Homo sapiens: one gene and its partner. The protein of the gene in region 1 purifies or fractionates together with the protein of each later gene. This does not show direct contact. Each region holds a gene or a part of one and is shown on either strand. Other genes may lie near its edges.

Region 1 (4,253 bases):
TTAAGAAATGCAAGTAACAGGTGCAATTGTCAATAGTAATTACTCAAGTCACCTGCTTTCAATATAAAAGTTGTAAATACATACAATGAAACAATCAACTATGGAGGAATTTCCATACTCTAGTAAATAGAAATAAATAATAAAATCTAAATCTATTTGCATGAAAATGGATCTGAAGAACTATTATTCTTTCCTAGAACCAACAAAAAATAGAATGCTTTGTTTGAACCGTGGGCAGTAATCTGTTTTGGTAGTGATAAGATAAAAACATCCTGTACTATATATGTAAGAAACTAAAACCTCTATCATCTAGGCACAAATTTAAATGTACAATTAGTGGAAACAACTAAAACAGTCCTTCAAAATTCTTAGTTTTGAGGACAGTCATAACTTCTCAAGATATAAAAATATGGGTACATTCTTAACATTATTTCTCATTAAAAGTAACCAACTATTTTGCTTTAAAGTTCATTTACTTCCCTCATTAGAATTTATTTCTCAGTCTATTTAAACAAAGTATCTGGATAAAAGCTAAAAATTTCACCTTGAGGTGTTTGGATTTTATAGGACAATATGTAAATGTTTCAATTTTCCAATTTTTATCTGCATGCCAGAAATCATGTATATGTAGCCATTACATCCCATAAATAAGATGTCTAGTCAATGATCTTTTACAATATAGTTTTAACAAATCTATGTGGGCATATAAATCAATTTCAAAATACCTACATACACTACCCAAAAAACTGTGGATGTCAGGTGAAAGTTTTAGCCAGCATTTTATTTCAACAGATGCTCAATACCTCGAATTTTGAGGCCCCATGAGCTTTTTTTTATGAACCAATCAAAAATCCAGCCAAAATCTTTTAAAATTCAATCACCTGGATGTTTAACATGCTATACACAATGTATCTTGATAAGTTACTGAGTTTTTCATTTGAATCCAGATGGTTCCTGTCATGGAGACATAACTACATTTTATTGCCCTGTTGCTTTAGAGACATTTTTAAAATTCTCTTTTTGTAACACTGAGTTAAAATAACAACAACAAAAACAGCACACATAACTATATAATAAGCCCAGTCTAAGCCTCTCTAACAGATAGACAGCCAATGTGATAAAATTTTATTTTGTAACAAAAGCTTCAGTTCTTGGAAAATTTACAAAGAGTTGCATAGGTTTATATATTTTTAATTAGACAGCTGTTTCCTAATGCCCTTCATCCTTAACCCATTGCAAATCTATTCAGATAGTGTTGTCCTGTGAATGGAACAAAAAGATACTTATATTGCAAAGGGATCTTGGGCTCAGAGGATTAGGAGAAACTTTAAATGAGCCAGCAGGAGAAGAGGGAGAAAAAAATCCAATCATGTTTCAATTCTCATGTATTAGAAAGACCTGCAAAAAGTTTTTCTCAACCACATGGACTGGCAAAGCTATGCAAGTAATTTTTTGAAAAAATCTCTTTTCTAATAAATATCACAGAGCTTACAGTTAAATATCTGTTGGATATATACAAATGCTGTCATAGCAAAAGGACTTTCAAAATTCTATAAACCTAATAACTAATATAGAGAAAATAGAGCTTGATTTTTTCAAGACAAAGATACTTCCTTTAAAGTCAAATGATATTATCTATGTATCAACATTTCAAACATAGACGTTTTATTTAAATCCCATTATGTGCACTTAAATATTTGAAGTAATTTAATGAAGGTGTGAAATAATTCCTCACTTAAAAAACAGTAAAGAAGTTGAACAACCAGGAAATGATAGCAGTTTTGCCTTGTTAATGTAAACTAGACTATTTAGTATTGTACTGCAAACCCAATTTTTTCAGATCCACACAAAATTGTTGAGAGTGGGAGAGAACTGAACTAGTTCCTACTTACAGAAAAGATGAAAACATCGTCTCTAAGTTTAAACATCTACACAGCAACCTACTCCATCATTATGCTGGAGCACTGGAGGTGCTTTGCCAGGAATTAGAAATTTAAAACTTTTATGGGGATACCTCAAGACCCTGAGCGCGGGGGAAAGCCCCGGAACCCAGAAGGAAGCTCCCACAATTGCTTTTCAAAGCGCTCACATGGCCCTGGACCAAGCGATTTCAAAGGGTTTCTGCGGAGGACGCATCGGGGAGCAAACTCTTTGACTGTAGGATTAAGACTCTGGGCACTTGGGGAATTCGTCTTGGTCCTTTGCATTTCAGGAAGGGGCCGTCAAATTTTAAGGTTCGAGGTTGGAGAGCCTCCAAAAGTACTTGAGAAGACTCAGAGAGAAACTTCTTTCAGCCTAACAGAAGAAAAATGCGAGGAGTGAGGCCGTGGGTGATGAGGGAGAAGTAAGCGGGAGAAGGTGGTAATAAAGGTGGTGGGCGACATCCTTGTCACTGTTTCTTCCAGGACGCGCCCAGTGTCCCCAGCCGTCTGCTGCTTTTGGATCTGGGTATTTTCCCAAGTGCACCAAGGGGCGACAGGGGCAGGTGTCCCCGCCCAGGGCGACCCTCCCTTTGCCTCTAGCCTGCCCTTCAGGGTCCCCGTCCCAAGCCCCCTGGGCACATCCCAGGCGCGCATCAGGGGCAGACAGGTGCGCCCGGGCCGCTTACCCCGGTGATCACGGCGGCGTCCCCAGCGCGGGGCGTGAGCAGCAGCGGCGGCAGCAGCAAGAGGAGCAGGAGTGGGGCGCAGCACAGGCTCCTCATGGCGCCCTCGGGACTGGGCGGCCGCCGGAGGCAGTTGGGGGCGCGGGGCCCGGGTGCGCTGGGTGGAGCGCGGAGCGGCGGGCGGACGGGCGCGGCGGCTCCCGCGAGCCTCCGGGCCGTTATAAAGGCTAGCCCCGCCGTGACTCACGCCGGCGCCCGCCCGGCAGCACACGCGGGGGGCACGGCGCGGGCACACACCCCACGCCCCACGCGCACACGCGCGCCCGCCTCGGCCCGGCCGGCTCCCAGACGAGCACGTGCTATGCGCGGCCCCCCGCGCCCCCGCCTCGGGCGCCACGCAGGCAGCGCTCCCGGCGGGGCGCCCCGCTCTGCGCCGTTCCCTCCGCCGTCGCCCAGCCACCGCCTTTCGCACGCGCCGGAACCGCTTTTGTGGTCTCCGAGACACTCATTTGCTGTCCTGGTTTCCAAAGCTCCACGTGCTCAGCGCCGAAAACTTGCAAATCATTTGCTGTACAGATGTTTAGGGGTCGCCTACTACGTGCGGGGCGCTGTGGACACATAGGGGGCGGGGGGTGGGTGAGGGGGACACAGCAGCCCCTGAATCCATTCGTTTGTTCAGCAGGTCTATACTGGGCGCCCGCTGCGTGCCAGGTACTGCCACCGGCTCTCTCCTCACGGTGGAATAACTTAACAGAGAAGACAGACATCAATCAAATACCCTGGAAACGTGGAAGGCAGGGGAAAGAACAAAGGGAGAGCAAAATCGCCCCAATCCCACATCACCCGCGACGTGAAAGGATTTGTCCTTCCAGCTGCGGGACTCCTATTTGTTTATTTCAAGTCAGAGGCCTTCCCTTTATGCCCACATCTGTTCCCGACCCTCTCCTCTGATTTTCCTCACATGTATTTCCTCCCCTCTTCAGCCCCGCGCCAGCTCCAGGCACAGCCGTTCAGGGTGATGCCAAAGGGAAATGAGAACGCCTGGTTTCGAGTGCCAGCCTGAGGCCCCTTAAGCCCTAGGTACGCAGCTCTCTCTTCTTTCTTAAACTTTCCAGCCCAGGAAAATCACCCTTCGGTTTTACAGATGCGATAGGGCGTTATTGTGATTCCTTCATTCACGTAAACATGAATTGAGTGTCTAGTGGGTTCCAGGCACACCAGGAAAGAATAAGTGACAGATTTGCCCTCCATCTCTCATCCTAGCCTGGCTCCAAAAACTGCAGCCTGTTTCCCTCAACAAAAATGACGTCAAGAATACCTAGATGTGACCACACCGAACTTGCTTGCCCGTTTTGGGAAACCCAACTTTCTTCCTGAATAGTCAGAACCTCTGGCTTTCCTGGTCTCTTAAGAACCGCAAACTATTGAAAAGCAGATGCGTCTTTCAGCCTCTTTAATAAATGCAGTAAGGAGAGTTGGGACAGAGTTACTTTCAGACTGTGGGGCTCCCCCGTGCCAAAGCATTCAGACGAAATGTGGGGGATAGCGGGGGGAAGGCAGGCAATTATCTGAATGTTAAACAGCTGAATATTTGGAAACCCCAATCTTTGGCTGATTTTTAAAAACCTTTTTCACACGTGTTCTCATG
Region 2 (3,500 bases), on another chromosome or scaffold:
CTGTGTCTTCCACCAGAACCTTCCTGCTCCCAGGAAAGGCCTGGCCTGGCTTAATCAAATCTAATAAAAAAAATCAAAATAACAACCAGTAGGCAACCTGCTAGGCTGATCCAACTGGACATGCTGGTGGCTGAGCAGGTCCTGGAGGCCCTGTCTTGCCAGGTGTTAACTCCTTGTATGCTGGGTCCCAGTGGAGGAACCGGGGCCAGGAGAAAAGCTAGGGCAGGCGGTGGGGGCCCTGACAGAGCTCTGGCAGCCTGATTTACCAACTGGCCCAGAAGCATCTCAGTGTTTGACACGGGCATACTGGTGTGCATAGGCTGATATCAGCTGTTGGTCTGGCAGAGTCCATGCCCAAAAAACATTTGTGGACCTGAGCTGAGGGCCAGAATGGATGTGCTTGGTTTCTGACCCATGACATAGTAGCATACAGGGCATGTGGCTTTGCCAGCTGTGTTCCTATGGGCAAGGAACCATGGAGATCTGAGGTCAGAGGTCATCAATCCAGAGGTTCCCCACTGACAGCAATGAGAGACTGTGAGCTATTTCTATTATTTCAAAAATATGAAAGAACACTGTCTTACCTATTTTAAGAATCAGAAAAAAATCGATTGCTACTAAATGGTTAATTACTAGCCCTGATAAACTAGCTTCTGCCCTTCTTGCAGGAATCTAGCTTTGCAGTAATTGCACTGTACTGTTACCCTTTAGTTGTCTGCTTGGCCAAATGGACCAGAATCTTTATGAAAGTGGAAGCTGAGACTGGTCACAATTGTATTCCCAGAACCTAATTCAGCGTTGGGCACAGAGAGACTCTCAATACATATGTGCTGGATGTTTAAAAAGAAGAGTTGATGGCTACTTCAGAGTAAGTACAATTTAATTTGATCAGAAATATCTTTTGAGACTTATAAAATAAAATTGGTCATTGGGACCTGCTGATGAAACCATCATTTTTATTTTTTTAAATTTTTATTTATTTATTTATTTATTTTGTGATGGAGCCTCGCTCTGTCGCCCAAGCTGGAGTATAGTGGTGCAATCTCGGCTCACTACAACCTCCGCCTCCTGGGCTCAAGTGCTTCTCCTGCTTCAGCCTCCCGAGTAGCTGGGATTACAGGCATGCACCACCAAGCCCAGGTAATTTTTATACTTTTAGTAGAGACGGGGTTTCACCATGTTGGCCAGGCTGGTCTCGAACTTCTGACCTCAAGTGATCCACCCGTCTTGACCTCCCAAAGTGCTGGAATTGCAGGTGTGAGCCACTGCGCCCAACCAAAACCATTGATTTTAGAGATGGAAAAACTGAGGAACAGGGAAGGGCAGGCTCTTGTTCTAATATGATGTGCCGAGTGAAGATTTAGGGGTCACGTGACTGCACTGGACTTGCAGGTCCACCTCTCACTTGCTGTGTGACTGGACAAAACAAGTTGCCTGACCTCTCCGAACCCTAGATTTTTTAAGTGCAAAGTGGGGAGAACTGCACATCTGAGACCAGAAGTGGGTGTGAGGATTGGCCAGGATGACGTGTAGGTGGTGCCAGGTGATGGCTGTTCCCTCTACACCCCTCATGGCTCCTGGTCCAATGCCTTCCACTGTACCACATAGAGCTCTTTGTTAGTGGGATACAACCAGTCCTGAGGCCACATATTTCAACCCTTCTGTTTCAAGGCCCCCAGCCACAATGCAACAGAACAGAAAGGTACATACATACGCCACGGGGTCATTACTCCGTGTCCCCACGATGCTGAACTTCTTCACATATGAGTTTTCTTTCAGGGCTTCTGCATATGCCTTGAGGGTGGGGATGGGGATATTCTGCACAAAGAAAGGCAACAGAGAGAGTGACCAGAAGCCTCCTCTGGGACAGGCTGAGGCAGGTGGATTAGCCTGGCTACTCTCTGATTCCTGGCAAGTCTCTGGCCAAAAAGCTGAATGGGCAAAAGGTTTAGGCTTTGTCCCGGACGACTGAAATCTGGGGAGAACTTTCTGGTAAACAGATTTAGAAAATCCTCCCTGAAAATTTCAGATAAGACCTGTAACCTCTTTCTTTGTGCACTTGGGGGCCAGAGAAGAGGCAAAAATTAAGGCGTGTAGTATTGTGCAAAGAGCTAGGACTAGGGGTGTGAGAGGGGCTGGAACCTGGCCTTGGTCCCAATGATCGGCAATGTTCCTGACTTGCTAGGTGTCTCTGTGGAAGCCTCCTGCCCTCTCTGGCCCTGTTTCTGGAAAACAGGTAAGGGGGTTGCATATGATACTCTTTAAGAGACATCTACCCCAGGGGGTCTCTGCTCCAGCGGCACATCAGAGACTCCTGGGGAACTTTTACAAAATGGTGATGCTTGGGCCGGCCCAGAACAATAGAATCAGAATCTCTAGGGTCAGGCCTGGGCGTTGGTATATATTTTTTAATCTTCTCAGGTGAAAACCACTGATCTGGTCCAACAGGCTCACAGTGCAGAGGAGAAACTGAGGCCCAGAGGAGGCTGGGGCCTCACAGGGAGATTCCATCCCTCATGTGGCCCTGAGGCAGCATTCACTGCCAGTGGGCAGCATTCTGAATTGTGCCAATGTCTCCTACTGGGCACATGAAAGAAAACATGGCTGTGTTTTTACCAATCTCTCAGAGCGTCACTTTAGCTCCCATGGGAGCAGAGCATGGGGAGGCCAGGTGGGGGTGAACACTAGGGTGCAGGTTTCCAATCTGATGGTGCCGTGGGGCTGGCAGCTGCTTAAAATAAAGTGGAGAAGGAAAGAAAGTGGAGCAGGGGCATGGGGGGCTGGCTTCTAGTCTTACCCCCACCCCCCTCCCAGAACTAATCCACTGGTCTCTGGGCTCAGCAGGTGGGTAGAAAGCTGCATTTGTCTCTGAATTCTTCCTGCGGCGGCCTGTTCAGGGTGAGACTGCCTGTCCACCTGTCCCTCCCCTGCCCCGGGATCACATAAGGAAATGTGCACAGAGAAAAGGGCAGACAGCTTGGGATATCGCTTTGGACATTTTGGCCAACAGCTCCCTTCTGTGGCTGTAAAACAAGGCTGAATATGAACGTGATATAGCAGCAGCGATGGCACAGGGGAGGGGCCTGCCCAGGGCCTGTGTTACCCCCGAGCCTAGTGGGCACCGGACTTTTCCAGCCTTGAGATCCCATGCAGCAGCGTGTGTCTGACTCATGATTTTATCTCGGAGAATCTCTCAGTGTTTTGAATAACGTGGCAGGTTTCCAGATCAAAGCTGGGTTGGCCCGTGCTAAACATCTGGGCCTGATATCATCCTCAGAAAGAAACCAGGACTGCCAGATGCACTTGTTTACACTGCCCACCCCTCTTAAAGGCTCCCATTTGCAAAGGTTTTGTCCCTATTCCCAATGCAGAAACACCCAGAATCCAAACAGGACCCTGTTTACTCTGCACAACCAACCCTGGACCGTTTGCATTTGGGTGACATGGTTCCCCCTCCCCCAGCCACACACAGGTAAAGTGAAATAAATGGACCTTACCCG

Evidence for each region. Proteins that work in one complex are often made in the same cells at the same time.
Region 2: the proteins of PROK2 (region 1) and TMOD1 purify together in Homo sapiens (affinity purification with mass spectrometry; one large-scale study listed by BioGRID and IntAct). This does not show direct contact.

Annotation. Positions count from the first base shown.
Region 1 is NC_000003.12:71,782,349-71,786,601, forward strand, and holds the start of PROK2 (prokineticin-2 isoform a precursor), read right to left. Parts: upstream 2,801-4,253; 5' UTR 2,705-2,800; coding exon 2,609-2,704; intron 1-2,608.
Region 2 is NC_000009.12:97,564,166-97,567,665, reverse strand, and holds part of TMOD1 (tropomodulin-1), read right to left. Parts: coding exon 3,498-3,500; intron 1,819-3,497; coding exon 1,711-1,818; intron 1-1,710. UniProt on the Homo sapiens protein: Blocks the elongation and depolymerization of the actin filaments at the pointed end. The Tmod/TM complex contributes to the formation of the short actin protofilament, which in turn defines the geometry of the membrane skeleton.